Regions from separate parts of the Homo sapiens genome. Here region 1 is linked to region 2. A link means that fine-mapping ties the variant in region 2 to the expression of a gene that starts in the linked region. Tissue or cell type: whole blood. Region 2 holds a variant in brackets; the other region holds the start of a gene. All regions are shown on one strand. Distances are from middle to middle.

What was found. PIP is the estimated chance that this variant, and not a neighbour inherited with it, causes the effect.
Region 1: ARL2BP starts here. The variant in region 2 is fine-mapped to the expression of ARL2BP in whole blood (TOPMed, PIP above 0.99). The same link has a PIP of 0.9 or more in T cells.

Annotation. Positions count from the first base shown.
Region 1 is chr16:57,242,128-57,250,127 of GRCh38, reverse strand. ARL2BP (ARF like GTPase 2 binding protein) reads right to left here and starts at 4,869. Exons shown (of 6, transcript NM_012106.4): 1 at 4,723-4,869; 2 at 3,987-4,048; 3 at 1,485-1,591; 4 at 276-361. The coding sequence starts at 4,760. LOC124903697 (a long non-coding RNA gene) reads left to right here. Exons shown (of 2, transcript XR_007065082.1): 2 at 157-4,313. RefSeq lists silencers at 4,471-4,680, 4,771-5,150.
Region 2 is chr16:57,263,529-57,272,669 of GRCh38, reverse strand. The region is part of intron 1 of PLLP (plasmolipin); the gene reads left to right. Among named protein-coding and RNA genes, the nearest start is that of PLLP, 17 kb to the left of the region's middle. RefSeq lists an enhancer at 8,516-9,141. The variant G/T (reference allele first, on the strand shown) is at 5,915.

The DNA.
Region 1 (8,000 bases), 22 kb after region 2:
GGGTCGGGGCCTCACTATGTCACCCAGGCTGGTCTTGAACTCCTGGGCTCAAGTGATCCTCCTCCCTTGGCCTCCCAAAGCACTGAGAACACAAGCGTGAGCCAATGCCTGATCTTTTCAAGATTTCATTAAAAGGTTTGAGGGCTTCCTCCATAGGACCTAACCACCAACGGCATGCACAGGAAAACAAACAAGGAGCGTCTTTTGGTCAGCCTAGGGAAGGAAGAAAGTGAGAAAACAAAACAAAACACAAAAATCAGTCAAGCTCAACTCACTGTAATGTTGTGGTGAAGGCTGCCATGTTGAACTCAGGAATCCGCTGCAGCAGCTGTTCTTCAATGTATTTTTCTACCAAAGAAATCTGCAACAGTGGAAAGGATTTTGGTGAGACCATACTTTGGGAAAACAAGACTTCTTTTCAGAAAGCCTGCCCAGCCCTTTCTAAACATTTCCTGAGGTCTGTGTGCCACAATCTACACTGAGTGCCAAGGATACCAAAGAGGACCAAAACACAGCTCCTGTCCTGGAGAAGTACTCAGCCTGGTGTGGAAGAGAAGCCTTAGCTGATAATGGTGCTGTAACAGGGTGGATGCTCTGACACAGGTGGAGACAGTGAGTAGCACGGTACCCACACCCACAACCCAGTGCAGGATGCAGTAAGTGGGGGCTTTGCCTCCTGGGTAGAGGGCATCTGTGTAACAGAACATACGGACATGGAGGCAGTCACAGGTTCCTTCTGGGCAGGTTTGTTTATGCCATGCTTCTGTGTTAAGAAAATAAAGTCCTGGAGGCCAAAATGGATTCTTAGATGACAGAATCCCAGGGGGCTGTTAAGAGGCCTCAGGGTAAAGTGTAGAGACCCAAGGGTGACGAGCTGAGGTTCCTGGGTTCCAGTCTTGGTTTTTCCACCAAATAGTTAGTGATCTTGGTCTCAGTTTTCACTTTTACTTAATAGTCATGCATATATGACTGGATTATATAGAAGAAAGAAAGAGTATGTGAAAGCAGAAAGGTTTGTCAAAAGCATGCAAATGCAAGGTATGAAGAACTCATGTACTGTGATTAAAAGCAGGATTATGATAAGCCAAACGTCTTTTATTTATTATCTTTATTATTATCATTTTTTTTTTAGAGACAGAGATCTTGCTGTGTTGCCCAGGCTGGTCTCAAACTCCTAAGCTCAAGTGATTCTTCCACCTCAACCTCCCAAATAGCTGGCACTACAGGTGTGCTACCAAGCCCAGGTCAAACTTCTTTTAAATAAGAAGCTGATGAGTTAATCAAATATTTGCCTGAAAGCCTTTTGGAAAATAGCCCCAAAGGCTGTGCAGAGGAAAATGAACTTAAACCAGATGCTAATGAGGATTCCTGGAAGTGTACTGGTGGCATATTTTAAAAGGCAGCAAATTTCAATGTCTTTTGAATCTAAATTTAAATTTTTAAAAACTCTGACCTCCTGGTAGGAGACATAGAAATCTACTTACGTATTCATTAAAAATAGGTGTGTAGATGAGTTTATTCTCTTCTGTGTCTTCAAACTCCAGGTAGTACTTGTCCATGAAATTTCTCTGTAATAACTGGAACTCGTCATCTGAACCACAGTGGGGAAAATTTATTCTTTTTAATGGAGATTACCAACCATTATGATTTATAAGTAGGCAGGATCTATGTCAGCAGTACTGCTTTCTCAATGATCAGTCTCTGGAAGGAAAGCTGATGTTTTAAGGGGGTATTAAATGGGACCCTGATGTGGAAATAGCCCAATCCTCCTGTTTTCTTTTTCTTTCTTTCTTTTTTTTTTTTTTTTTTTTTTTTTGAGCTGGAGTTTCTCTTGTTGCCCAGGCTGGAGTGCAATGGTGCGATCTCGGTTCACTGCAACCTCCACCTCCAGGGTTCAAAAGATTCTACTGCCTTAGCCTCCTGAGTAGCTGGGATTACAGGTGTGTGCCACCTCGCCAGCCTAATTTTGTATTTTTAGTAGAGACAGGGTTTCATCATGTTGGCTAGGCTGATCTCGAACTCCCGACCTCAGGTGATCTGCCTGCCTCCGCCTCCCAAAGTGCTGGGATTACAGGTGTGAGCCACCGCACCCAGCCCTGTTTTCTTTTTAAATTGTGGTGAGATATACAATTTTTTTTTATCATTTTAATGTTTAAGCACACAGCTCAGTGGCTTTAAGTATGTTTACATTGTTGTGCAATGATCACCACCATCCTTCAGTCCATTTTAACCATATCCACACAGGGTGGCTTGGGAACTCCCTGACATTACTTTTCTGAAAAGGAATGAATTGGTTCTCTCTTATTTTGATATAACTTCCACAGCAGTTGTGGAAACAGTGTAGTGATTAAAATTATGGGGTCTGAAAGAGGCTAGCCCGTCTGGGTTCGAATCGCATCTCAGCTACTTACTAATTGTGTGACCTTGGGTAAGTTACTTAATTTCTCTAACCCCCATATAAACACATTTATCTGGAAAATAAGAATGGTTTATGGTAGTTATCATATAGGATTGGAAGTGGAATTTAGATGAGAATTCATGTAAATAGATTAGTTCATAGTGAACACTTAATAAATGATAGGGAATAGGGAATTTTTTTTTTTTAATTGAGACAGGGTTCTCCCTATGGTGCCTAGGCTGGTCTCGAACTCCTAGACTCAAGCAATCCACCTGCGCTGGCCTCCCAAAGTGTTGGGGTTATAGGTGTGAGCCACCGTACCCATCCCGGAATAAGGAATTTTAACAACTGAATAGATTATTTCTAAAAATAAAAGGAAAGTTTCAGAAAGGACCCAGACTTTGGGATAAATACCGTAGGCTCACAGAAGGCTCATTTTCCCATAGCATATAGGGTATAATAGGCAAGAGAACTGAATGGATTCTTCAGTATTCCCCAGAAATCCCCAAGTCCACATGGGAAACGAGCTTAATGATGAAACATCTATATTCAGGAGTTAAGGGCATGAACCTTTATACCTGAAGGTATAAAAACTTGGTCAGTAATTTTCATTCTAAATGGATTAAGCCATACAGCCAATAACACCAAATAACAGTGTTCTTTTCTCAATTCTCATAAAACTTAAAGTCAACAGAATTTTCTCAAATGTAAGTTTTCCCCTCCTACATACTTGTCTTAAACCTCTGGGGACTGTTACTGCTTCTCTGTTACTTAGCAGGTTTCATGGATGCCCAAATACATCCACAAGTAGGAACTCAAAACCTAGGAAAATACAGAACCAGCTGAAGCTTAATACCTTGTTTTCTTTATGGCCATGTGTGCTTATGGTTATGGTTTTATGTGTTTATTTTCATTTTTATTTTTTCCAGACGGAGTCTCGCTCTGTCGCCCAGGCTGGAGTGAAGTGGCACGATCTCGGATCACTGCAAGCTCCACCTCCCAGGTTCACGCCATTTTCCTGCCTCAGCCTCCTGAGTAGCTGGGACTACAGGCGCCCGCTACCACGCCCGGCTAATTTTTTTTGTATTTTTAGTAGAGACAGGGTTTCACCGTGTTAGCCAGGATGGTCTTGATCTCCTGACCTCGTGATCCGCCCACCTCGGCCTCCCAAAGTGCTGGGATTACAGGCGTTAGCCACCGCACCTGGCCTGGTTTTATGTGTTTTATGGCATGAAAATGTTAAAACTCAAAACTATCTAAAATTGAAATTGCTCTTACCCTACATAAGAAATAGAGTAGATCATTATTTCCTATAGTTTTGCGAAGAACGCCACACTGCTGGTGCCCTATTAGCCTGAGTCAGTCCCTTCCAGCCTCTGAATCTATGCTTATTAGATGTTTTCAGGAGTACTGGGCTGTTTGTTTCTAAGACAAACTGCAGTAAGCCTTTACTTAAGTATTACATTGTGCTACATTAAAAATTGCAGGCAGCTTGATGTTTTCTCTTTTTAAAATTAACTCTCCAAATTGATTTCAATGTCCTTAAAGAAACAAGCAAGTCCTTAAAAACAGTATCTTAAAAGCTTACCCATGATAATGTCCTCTAAATATCCAACCACAGCATCAAATTCTGCATCAGAGGCGGAGGAGCTGAAAAACATGCCTGGATTAGGTGCTATTTCAAATAATGCATTAAAAAAATGTTTTTAGTATGGACGTTTTCAAACATGCACAAGAGAAAAAAGAGTAGCAAAACGAACTTCCCATCACCCATCTTCAACGATTAAGAATGACTGACTGATCTAGTAAGTCCAAACAGAAGAAAACACACTCGGCACGTTTGTGACATGAACGTTCAATGTCATGACTCCACTTTAATAAAAACTTGTTCTCCAGGCTCTTAGCTATCACCCCATACCTGTCTGCTTGTGAGCATGAACCCGGCACGGGCGAAACACCTGCCGGGGGGGGTCATTTGGTCAGGAGTCCGGGAGGCGGGGGCCAGGGAGGGGTGGAGGGGCCTCGGGCGCTCAACCCCTCCAGGCTTTGCTGACAGCTGAGGGTTGGCGGCTGGGGATTGTGATGGAGGCGCTGATCAACGGTGACACCCGCCTCGCACTCCTGTCCTGCGGGGCCTGAAACCTGCAGCCTTAGTACTCTACAAAAGGAAGGCCTGGAGCTGGGACGGCGCCTTGGCGGCCCCCACCCTGCCCGGCCCGGCCCGGCCCGGCCCCTAAGGACACCTGTTTTATAGGGTCAGGCCCCGGGGCGAACGCCCGCTGCCTCCGGCCCCAAGTCGCCTGCGCCCTGGAGGAGCTACTCACAAAGACAGCGCAAAGCTCTCTCCTTCTAAGGCGTCCATCGCAGTCGCCCCGAGTAGGCTCCAACCCCGCCCGCGGCCCAACTCGCATGCAGGGCGCGGCCGCCCGGCGGGGTTAAGGCCTCTCAGCCAAGGCCGCGGCCAGCTCACTGCCAGGTCGGGTCAGCGCCTGCGCGCCAGGTCCGGCCTTGGATACCCTCTGCCGCCACGCGTCGGTCCGGCCTCTACGCCCGCCTGGCCCTCTGCGCGCGCCGCCGACGCCGCAGGTCCGGGCCTCGGTGACTGCCGGAGGGGCGCGGCGCCCCGCCTCCTGTCACCATGGCCACCGCAACCCCTTCCACCGCCTCACGGCCGGCCGGCATCCAATCACAGGCGAGCGTTACCGATGCCGGGGCGGGGCAAGACAGGGAGAGGAAGTCCCGGAAGGGAGTGCGGAGGGATGCGGCGCTTCGGCGAGCACCCGTTGTGTGGGAACTCCGTCTCAAGTCGCCCCCATTGTACGGATGAAGGAATCGAAGCCACGAGCCAGAATTTCCTCACTCGCAACTCGAGAATAAATTGCGCCTCCCTGAGTGTGGAGGATTAAATAAGTAGTTTAAGGCGTGTTTAAAGAGCGCTTGTAAGTTGCCAAGTCGCTGGAGAGCCAGTCCCTTATCCCTTGAACCAGGTGATGCTGACGTCTGATTTCAAGACAGTTCCTACCCCTCGTGGAAGGAAAGCCCCATCGCAAGAAGTCGATGTCCTGTAATTTACGTTATAATCTTCGCATCATAAAGATTACTCGGCAGTAATTGGTTTCTTGACTAATTATACAAGATGAGAATTGAAGAACTATTTTGAGCCACGCAATCAGGAATCAGATACCTTTCAGGAAAAGGCCTCTTCAAAACTGCCAAACTTTGAAAAAGGATTCGTTTGAGCTGATTTCTCTTGATTGGACAACTAAGCATTGTGTCTCTTTAGTTGCATGATACCTTATGGCCAAAGTGTGGTATATGACTAGAGGAACTAGAGGGGTTTAAGGTATGAACTGAGGGTCAGGTGGCCAGTCAGAATGGGTTAGCAGACATTTTTTATTTTTTTGAGACGGAGTCTTGCTCTGTCGCCCAGGCTGGAGGGCAGTGGCACGATCTCGGCTGGCTACAACTTCCGCCTCCCAGGTTCAAGCGATTCTCGTGCCTCAGCCTCCCGAGTAGCTAGGATTACAAGTACGTGCCACTATGCCCGGCTATTTTTGAATTTTTAGTAGAGACAGGGTTTCACCATGTTGGCCAGGCTGGTCTCGAACTCCTGACCTCAGATGATCCACCTACCTTGGCCTCCAAAAGGGCTAGGATTACAGGTGTGAGCCACCACAACCGGCCTAGCAGACATCTTTGAATGGACTTAAAATAGATATCCGTGGGATCTGAAACAAAGATGGTTACAAAGACACAGTCGGGTGTGACAGCTGTGACCAAGGTGACATAAATTATTACTAATTTATTTATTTATTGAGATGGAGTTTCGCTCTTACTGCCCGGGCTAGAGTGCAATGGTGCAATCTCGGCTCAACACAACCTCCGCCTACCGGTTTCAAGCGATTCTCCTGCCTCAGCCTCCCGCGTAGCTAGGATTACAGTCATGCGCCACCATGCCTAATTTTTTTGTGTTTTTAGTAGAGATGGGGTTTCTCTATGTTGGTCAGGCTGGTCTTGAACTCCCGACCTCAGGTGATCCGCCCGCCTTGGCCTCCCAAAGTGCTGGGATTACAGGCGTGAGCCACTGCGCTCGGCCTATTTATTTTTTGAGAGGGAGTCTTGCTCTGTTGCCCAGGCTGGAGTGCAGTGGCGCAATCTCGGCTCACTGCAATCTCTGCCTCCCGGGTTTAAGGGATTCTCCTGCCTCAGCCTCCTAAGTAGCTGGGATTACAGGCGCGTGCCACCACACCCGGCTAATTTTTGTATTTTTAGTAGAGACAGGGCTTCACCATGTTGGCCAGCGTGGTCTCGAACTCCTGACCTCTGGTGGTCTGCCCGCCTCGGCCTCCCAAAGTGTTGGGATTACAGGCGTGAGCCACCGCACCCGGTCAGGTGACATCAATTATGAGTTACTCTGTTTAGCACCAAGTGGAAGATAGGCATTTAAAAAGATTTGCTGAATTACTGGACTGAGTTGTTTAGTCAAGCCCTGGTCACACAGCTTACAGCAAACTCAGAGAGTTTCTTCATGACCTACTTTCTCTATATACCACACATTTCTGGACAAAATGAATTTGCCTACCCTTCCTAAGTCATTGATGGAGTGGAGGAGGAACACACCTTGATTTAATCTGTTCTGGTTATCTATTGCTGTTACAAACCACCTGAAAATTTAGTGGCTTAAAACCACCATTTTGCTCACTAATCTGTAATTTGGGCAGGGCCAGCTAGTCTCTATTCCAGTTGGTGTCGGCTGGGGGCAGCTGGAATGGACTAGAGGAGCTTCCTCCAAGGAGTTTACTCACATGGCTGGCAAATTAGTGTTGGCTCTTGGCTCTCAGTTGTGGACATTGGCCAGAGAACTGGGGCCGGGGTTTGGGGGGTTTCAGTTCCTCTCCATCTATAGGATTCAGGGGATTCTTGGGTTTTCTCACACCATGGTGCTGGGTCCAAGAGCAAGTGTTTCAAGACACTGAAATGTAAGCTGGCAGTCACTTAAAGACCTGGTACTGGAAACTGGCACAATAGCCCTTCCACTGTGTTCCACTGATCAAGCAGACCCAGAGCCACCCAAATTTAAGGAAAGTAGACATAAACCTCATTTCTTGACGGGAGGGATGTCAAATAATTTGTGGCCATCTTTTAATCCATTTCACCAACCTTACTGACTCTAGGAACAAATGGGGATAAAGATAAAAAGTACCCACTCAAGGATGTATCAGATAGTGTGCTAAACATTTATAAATACATTGTCTCCTTTTGAAATATTTGAGACCTTACAAAAACAAAAAACCGGTATGAGGTGGGTAGTATCTCCATTTTACAGACTGGGAAACCAAGCATTAGTGGGACCTGGGTCCAGTCCCACTCCAAAGGGCCTATTTCAACCATCATGCTATATAGCCCCTAATCCCTGGGTTGTTAAACCATATTCTTGGAAATCAGAACGTTTTCTCCTGAATACAGAATGGCCTTTTTCCACTTGTAGCAAAACTAAAAATTGACTTGAATACACTAAATGTTTTTCCATTAATACTCATTTTTAAAATCCTTTGATTGGGGGTTGGCACTAGGAATTCTTCTGAGTGAATAAATAGCAAAA
Region 2 (9,141 bases):
AATGGGCCCCTCCTTGAAGTTGAGACAGACAAGTCTTGCTCAAGGTCACCCAGAACATCAGTGCCAGCATTGGGTGTAGAACCAGTGTTGCCGGAAGTCCAGGGAGAGAGGAAGACACTCACTTTAGCACCCCAATTCCTCCAGCAGGCCGAGGCCAGGGTGCACGGGACTGATGAGGCTCTATATACTTCCAACAGCAGCTGGTTCTTTCTCTGGAGGGGCCGATGGAAGGATGAGGTGGCCTTGGGGTGCTGAGACTATAAGCTTCTTGTTATCCCAGCTGCCTTGGGTTCGAGTTCTGCCACTGCCCCCTCTCAGCTCTGGCTTCAAGAGCAGTGATGCTCTCTTCAAATAAAGTAGTCTCCAGGGGAATGTCCCCACATCCTGGGTGACAGGGGAAGGGGAGCCTGGGCCACAGAACTATCCAGGTCCCAACCCTTACCAGGCATGACCTTGGTTCAGGTCCAGATCTTCCAAGAGCCTCGGTTTTCCTCATCAGTGGAATGGGTCAAGTGTTTCCCTTGAGAGGGTTGGGCCCAGAAGGAGGAAGGCCCTGGGGGTAAAGCCCTGGCGGGGGCCTGGCAGGGTAGTTGCGGGGGCAGGAGTTGGAGGGAATGAATGCAGGGCTCCACCTGGGACTTCACAAGGAGGGTAAGGCCTTCCTGGGAATGCTCTGTGTGGTTGGAGGGGCCTGGGTGCTGGGGAGGCTTGGGTAGGCTTTGTGGGGTAGGCCTAGGAGACCCTGGGAAGGAGGGAGGAAGCAGAGGAGGGGACTGGCAGGCAGGGAGCTCTGAGTTTCTGAGATCCCACCTGCGAGTGCTGCCACCTGCTCTGAGAGCCAGAGAGGGCCTTGGAGTGTCACTGAAGAGGCCCCTACCCGCCTTCACACACCTGGGGGCGGCCTGTGGAGGGAGGACCTGCTTGATCTGACCAGAGGGCAGGATGGGAACGGGGAGGGATTAAGTAGGGGTAGTTTCAGTTCAGGTTGGGAAGACTTTTCTTTTTTTTTTCTTTTTTTATTTTTGAGACAGAGTTTTGCTCTTATTGCCCAGGCTGGAGTGCAATGGTGCCATCTTGGCTCACTGTAACCTCTGCCTTCCAGGTTCAAGCAATTCTCTTGCCTCAGCCTCCCGAGTAGCTGGGATTACAGGTGCCCACCACCACGCCCAGCTAACTTTTTGTATTTTTATTAGAGGCGGGGTTTCACCATGTTGGCCAAGCTGGTCTGGAACGCCTGACCTCAGGTGATCCACCTGCCTTGACCTCCCAAAGTGCTGGAATTACAGGTGTGAGCCATCGTGCCCGGGTGGGAAGACTTTTCTAAAGCCCTAAGCGGGGACCTCACAGCAAGGATAAGGTGGTAGTGGCTCCTCACAGCAAGGATGAGGTGGTAGTGGCTCCTTGGCTGCAAGTACACGTGGGGGCTGCAGGACCTTGCTGGGGGTCCAGGGGCGGCTCAGCTCAGCCACTGGGGTAGGTGTGCTGCAACTTCTTCTGCGTTTGGCATTGAAATGCTCTCTGCTCTGAGACCCAGGACTCAGGAATAACAAGCGATACAATGAACGCCTTGGAGGAGGACCAGGTCTGAGCCCCCACCTCCAGCATCGTCCTCCTGCCATAGCCCCAGGAAGCAGGGTCCACGCGGGAGGTGGGGGTGGGGTGGCTGTGGCCTGGGGTGGCGACCCTCGCTGCCAAGCTCCCCACTGTGTTCCCAGGGCATAGAATAGCGCCTGGCACAGTTTGTTTAATGACTGAATGACTCCGTTTGGCAACTTACATGCCCATTTTTCCGACGAGAAAAGAGAGCTTAGGGCTATTCAGTACTGCCCAGGTCTAGTGGATCTGGGGCTGGGTTCCGAGTCTGCTGTCGCCTTCCTGGAGAGCGGGGATGACTCCAGGATCCTCGAATGCTGGAATGCATGGCATGGGAATTCCAAGGTGCCCTCCCTCTCACACAGTCAGGGGGTGGTGTGTGGCTGTGTCGTGGCCAGCTTAGGCGCCCGGAGCCTCTGTCCCCTGCCCCTTTGTCTCGTGTGATACAATGGGTGGCTTTTTGTCCCCATAAAGTCCCTTTCACTGTAGGGAGAAGGGCCAGAGCGGGGGTGGGGACCGAGCCTGGCCAGGCTGAGTTCTGAGTGTCCTTGGCTTGCCCAGATGTGTCCCCAGTGAGGGGGACCCCAGGAAGGGTTTGCTTTGCCATGCTGGGCGTGGTTTTCCTGGATGGAGCAGTGGGAATAGAGAGGCCGGAGCTGGGGAAGGACTCGGGGACCTGGGAAGCACTCAGGGGCCATGGATGGACTTGGGGGCAGGGGAAGGACTCGGGGGCTGTGGAAGGACTTGGGGGCTGTGGATGGACTCAGGGGCTGGGGAAGGACTCGGGGGCTGGAGATGGACTCGGGGGCTGGGGATGGACTCGGGGGCTGGGGAATGACTCAGGGGCCAGTAAAGGACTTGGGGGCTGGAAAAGGGGGTTGTGGATAGACTCGGGGACTGTGTTTGGACTCGGGGGCCATGGAAGGATTTGCTGCCTTGGCCCCTTTGGCCGTTACGTTGTTTCTAAAAACCTTTGGTTCAGTCACCCATGTTTAAAAAGCTGATTTTTGCCAGGTGCAGTGGCTCACGCCTGTAATGCCAGCACTGTGGGAGGCCAAGGCAGGTGGATCATCTGAGGTCAGGAGTTTGAGACCAGCCCGGGCAACATGGTGAAACCCTGTCTATACCAAAAATACAAAAATTAGCCGGGCATGGTGGTGGCACGCACCTGTAATCCCAGCTATTTGGGAGTCTGAGGCAGGAGAATGACTTGAACCCAGGAGGCAGAGGTTGCAGTGAGCCGAGATTGCGCCACTGCACTCCAGCCTGGGCAACAAAGCGAGACTCCATCAGATAAATAAATAAATAGCTGATTTCCATATAAAATCCAGACTTCTAGTGTCTCTTGAAAAATTAGAAACTTTGGTCACCCCAGGCCTGCATTCCCAGCAGCCACTCCAGAGACTCCCCGGCCCACTGTAGTCATTCCTGTGACCTGCCAGCCCTGGCAGCTGCTGAGCTTGAGCCCTGGTGTCCTCTAGGCCCCGGCTGCCTTCCTGCCTCGTGGCGTCCCTCTCTGGGATTTCCCTCCCCCAGCCCCGGACTGTCTCATAGCCTTCACGACTGCTCACGACTGCTATGGCTTTTAATGTTTTCTTTCACATGGTTTCATCTCCATGACACACCTGTGAGGTGAGCAGGTGTCCCCCTAGGGTCCCTGTACCCCAATTTCCTCACTTGCCAGATGAGGAAACAGACCAGAAAGGTTGGGTGACTCCCCCAAGGCCACACAGTGAGCCCACAAAGGTCTGATGCTGCCCCGGAAGTGAGGAGGGTGAAAAGAGTTGGGGTGACCATCTTTGCATGACAGCTCAGAGTCCATAGGGTTGGTCAAACCCCTCCCTTTGGGGCCCCTGGAGGAGGCCCATGTTCAGGAGTGTTGACCTCTGCGGGAAATCTCAGAGAACAGCAAGCCAAACCTCCCTGCTTCCATTGTGCCAGGGGGTGAAGGGGTCTGCCCAAGGCCCCTCAGCCTATGAGGAGCTGAGGGAGTGCAGCTCCAAGGGAGATCTGAGGGCTGGGCTGGATTTCTGGGGCCTCCTGTGGGAGCACCACCGCCTTATCTGTCAGGTGGGTGGGGCTGGCACTGACGTGGGTCCTTATCTCTGCCTGGGCTGTGCCTGGTGCTTGAATGTGGATACTGTCATTCTCTCAGTGAGGCCTCACCCTCCTGAGGAGCCTCACACACCGTGGCGAATGCAGGAAAGTAGGCCCAGGGCCTGACTTGAAAACCCATGTTCTTAACCCCTCAGGGTGATCATGACACCTGGCCATGTTGAATATTAAGCCTATGCTGGTTGCTGGTCTAAGTTCCTTGCTCAAAACTACCCTAGGGCCCAGGCAGGAGGATCAGTTAAGCCTAGGAGTTCTAGACTAGCCTGGGCAACATGGGGAGACCCCACCTCTACAAAAATTAAAAATAGCTAGGAGTGGTGGTGCATGTCTGTAGTCCCAGCTACTTGGGAGGCTGAGGTGGGAGGATCACTTGAGCCCAGGAGTTCGAGGCTGCAGTGAGCTGCAATAGTGCCATTGCACTCCAGCCTGGGTGACAAAGTGAGACCCTGTCTCAAAAACAAAACAAAACAAAACCACCCTAGGGGGTAGATACATTTCAAAGATGAAGGAAGATGAAGACAAGGGCACAGAGAGGCTAAGCCACTTGCCTGAGGTCACACAGCTAGTTAAGTTGGCAGGGCCAGAGCGTGAATTCAAGGAGTCGATAGGCCACCCCTCCAACAGAACCAATGCCAGTGTCACTCAGGTGAACAAGGTCATGACACCCATCCACAGATTCAGAGAGCAGCTGAGAAAAACCTATTCATTTCCTGGGGCTGCCGTAACAAAGTTCCACAAACTGGGTGGCAGAAATATATTGTCTCAGTTACTGAAATCAAAGTGTTGGCAGGGTTGCTTTCTTCTGGGGCTCTGAGGGAGAGTCTGTCCCATGTCCCCCTCCTGGCTTCTGGTGGTGACCAGCAAGCCTTGGTGTGCCTTGGCTTACAAATGCATCACTCTCGTCTCTGCCTCTGTCTTCACACGATGGTCTCCCCTTGTGGTCTCTGTGTCCACATTTCTCTTGCAAGGACACCAGTCATTGGATTAGAGATGCCCCCAATCCAGTATAACCCCCCTTAACTCGAGCATGTCTGCAAACACTATTTTCTTTTCTTTTCTTTCTTTCTTTCTTTTTTTTTTTTTTTTGAGACGGAGTTTCGCTCTTGTTGCCCAGGCTGGAGTGCAGTGGTGCGATCTCGGCTCACTGCAACCTCTGTCTCCTAGGTTCAAGCGATTCTCCTGCCTCTCCCAAGTAGCTGGGATTACAGGCACATGCCACCATGCCTGGCTAATTTTTTGTATTTTTAGTAGAGGCAGGGTTTCACCACGTTGGCCAGGCTGGTCTTGAACTCCTGACCTTAGGTGATCCACCTGCCTCAGCCTCCCAAAGTGCTGGGATTACAGGTATGATCCACCATGCCAGGCCTTGTTTTGTTTTGTTTTGTTTTGTTTCTGAGACAGAGTCCCACTCTGTCCCCCAGGCTGGAGTGCAGTGGTGCAATCTCAGTTCACTGCAACCTCTGCCTCCTGAGTTCAAAGTGATTCTTCTGCCTCAGCTTCCTGAGTAGCTGGGACTACAGACACCCACCACCATGCCCGGCTAATTTTTGTATTTTTACTGGAGATGGGTTTCTCCATATTGGCCAAGCTGGTCTTAAACTCCTGTCCTTAACTGATCATGCACCTCAGGCTCCCAAAGTGCTGGGAATACAGGTATGAGCCACTGCGCCTGGCCAGAGCCTGTTTTCAAATAAGGCCACATTCCCAGGTACTAGGGGTTAGAACTTGAACATATTTTGGGGAACACATTGCAAACCACAATAAGAGATGAGGAAAAACTTCCCTCAGAGTCAGTGAAGGGCATGCACCCTGCAGGAACCTGGCCTGTCTGGCTGTCAGTGTTGGCAGCTTCTGGGGAAACTGTAATAACAGGGTTTCACTGCAGCAAGGAGTGCCTCTTGGTTGGGCATTTGTGACGAATCTTCTCTCTGATGCCACAGGTGGTTTTAACAAAAACATCTCTTCGTTACCCAATTGTTTGGAAATTCTTTGAAGATGCAAAGGTCGTTTTTGACACTGTAGTCTTCATATGTAAAAAAAAGTTCCTAATCCAAATTATTCAGGTTTTCAGAAAAGCAAAAAAAAAAAAAAAAAAAAAGGCCCTGTGCCCTTGAGATTTCCAGACAGTTCCCTTTGTTTATCTGCAGGACCTGTCTGGGGAGGCATGGCAGGGACCTCAGAGAGCTGGGAAGGAGGGGAGGATGTG[G/T]TTTGCCTGTGTGTGTAGGAGAGAGACAGTTAGATATTCATGTAGACACCTCCAGAGAAACACGGGGACAGACGAACATGTAAGCAAGAGAGACCTGCAGGGCCCAGGGGTGAAGGCATAGAGTTCTGTTCTCAGATACCCACGTGGCACCCTCCCTGCCCCTCCCTCACCTCCCTGGGTCTTTGCTTATCATCACCTTGCCAGTGAGATCTTTCTTGGCCCCTTCTCCATAGACATTTGTTAAATATATTAACCCAGAGAGATGCCCACAGCGAGGCCTGTGTTGGGTGCCCTGTTCCGAGCAGGGTCTCTCTTGGGGGACTGGGCTGGGGGCTCAGGAACCAGGAGAAACCAGTCTGTCTGGTTCAAATGCAGGAACGAACCTTCCTTGTTCTAGGGCAGAAACCGAGGCAGCTCCGCAGGCACAGAGCCAGGCAGCACAGCCAGAAAGAACGCCAGAAATTCCCAGTCCTTATCCACCGGCTTCATCTGGACGCTGTGTTCGCTGATCTGGAAACCAGGGGTGGGGCTGGAGCACAGCACAGGGCGGGGCAGGGATGGCGGCGGGCAGTGGGGGGAGCCTGGGTGCCCAGCCCAGACTGGCTCCTAGAGCCAGCTGAAGTGTCCTCATTTTTTACACTTCACTAAATAACTCATAGTAGCGCAGGTTCCAAGGAAGCACGGATCTGGGTTCCTGTCCTTCCCTATCCTTTTAAAATTTTTATTTATTTTTTGAGACAGGGTCTCTGTCACCTAGGCTGGAGTGCAGTGGCGCCATCATGACTCACTGCAGCCTTGACTTCCCAGGCTCCATTGATCCTCCACCTCAGCTTCCCAAGTATCTGCGACCACAGGCACATGCTACTATGCCCAGCTAAATGTTATATTTTTGGTAGAGATGGGGTTTTCCATATTGTCCAGGCTGGTTTCGAACTCCTGAGCTCAAGTGATCCACCTGCCTCAGCCTCCCAAAGTGCTGGGATTACAGGTGTGAGCCACTGCACCCGGCCTCCTGCCCTGTCCTTTACCCACAGTGACCTCAGGCACATTGCCTCCTGAGATTCCCTTTGGAAGATGGGAATAACAGATAGAACATTTGAGGAGGGTCTGGTGATGGAGGAATCAATGAGATGTGTCTGGCACAGAGCGAGAAGGCATTGAGTGGTTATTGTGACCTAGGCTGTGAGTCATGGGACAGGTGATTGATAGGCATATGATAGTGGAAACCTGAATTGGTCTTTTCTTGATTTTTGGTTCATTGCATTTTCTGACTTTCCTTTAGTTAGTTGGAAGCTGGCAACACAGTGGCAGCGGAGGCCCATGAGGAATTGGCTTTAAATGAAAAAATAATTGTTTATCTTGGACGCACCCAGTTCTCACCTGGAGAAGGGACGGAGGCGTGCTGCCCGAAGTGTTTGTTCTCCTTCAGAACACTGGCCTCCCCCCAGCTCTGGGGGTTCGTGGCCTCTCCAGGTGTGTCTGTTTCTGGCAGGGTGTTGTTCTGAGACATCCTGCCCTGGGTCCACACTCGTAAGGGCTCTGCCCCCAGCTTGGTGTGTGACAGCGGGCAAGGCCCTGTGGCTCCGCCCTGGCTTCCTCACCTGCCTACCCTCACCTGGCCTGCTTGCGGCGGTGAGAGTGCTGACGGGCAGCAGAGGCTGGCAGGGTGCTGTGTGTTGGGGGGTGGATCCCTGGAGCTTCACCCCAGTGTGGGGAGGAGCAGGTGCTGAGCCCTGGAGAGCGGGACACCTTCCCTGGGCCTCCCACTTTGGGCTGAGCCCCTTACTTGGGTTGGGGGGAGGCAAGGCCAGGGGCAGTTCACAGATGGACACCTGCTTCTTATTAATTTATTTTGTTAATTTAATTTTAACTTTACTTAATTTTAATTTTATTTATTTTCGTTTATTTTGAGACAGGGTCTTGCTGTTGCTCAGGCTGGAGTACAGTGGCACAGTCATGGCTCACTGTAGCCTCAACCTCCCAGGTTCAAGCGATCCTCCCCACTCAGCCTCCCAAGTAGCTGGGACCACAGGTGCACCATCACCACACTCGGCTAATTTTTAAAGTATTTGGCAGAGATGGGCTCCCTGTATATTGCCCAGGATGGGGTCTTGAACGCCTGGGCTCAGGCAATCCTCCCACCTTGGCCTCCCCAAATGCTAGGATTACAGGCATAAGCCACCACGCCCAGCCCCACTGCTTCCTCTTTTAATACACGGTGCCTGTGCAGGGCAGGGTTCTGGTCTCTGTCATGGTTGAAGAAATAGGATTGTTAGTTCCTAAGCACATTGTGTATTTAGCGTATATTATGTGTCGGGCACTGTTGGGCACTGAAGATACAGCAGTGAACAAAACCCAGAATCTTCCTCGGAGAGCAGGGAAGGTACTCGGTCAGCATCACACAGCCACACAGCTTTTGACTTCCAAGCTCGAGGCCCCACCTGCCACTTCCCCACTGGGCCATACCCTTCCCAAGCCAGATCCCTGGGGGATGGGGAGTAGGCCGAGGAAGGAGGGTTGTGAGGGCTGAGGGCTCCCTGGGCCAGCTCAGCTACAGGCCCCCGAGTCTTGTCCCTGGCTTCTGTAGGGATCCACACAGGAGCTTCCCTTCTGGTCCTCGACGAGGTTGCTTTTGGATGGGGTGCCTGGCAGGCACCCCAGCTCTGTCTGTGCTCTAGGCCCAGGCCCTCAGGTGCTCTAGGGGCTGGCGGCAGCCCCTCAGCTGCTGGGAGCAGCCAGGACTTTCTGTCTCCAAACCCTAGCAGCCAGAGGCAGGTCCTGCTCCGGAGCCGCTTCTCTGATCCCACTGACTTGTCCTTGGGCTGGTGGCAAGGTCACTACGCAGCCTTGGTGCCATGTACCTGGGCGCTGACCAGGGGAAAAAGAGGACACCTCTGTGTGTCTTGATTGGCAATGGAGCCTTTCTCCAAAGCTAGACCCTCGTGTCCTCTCCGTGGCCAGGGATTCCAGAGAGTGCCCTCGTGGAGAAGGCGCTCTCCAGAGCATCTCCACCAGCAAGGGGTGGGTGGGGGTAGGAGGGGCTGGGGAGGCCCAGGATGGCCACATCCGAGGTGCCTCTGGGGGCCTCCACGAGCTCCCTGGGCCCTGCCTCAGCTGGCCCTTTGCTGGCCTGCACCCTGAGACAGTCTGCATAGTGAGTCGACAAACCTGCCGCAGAGAATTCTCTGTGGCTGTGAGGGCTGGGGCCTGTGCAGTCCAGTTCGGGC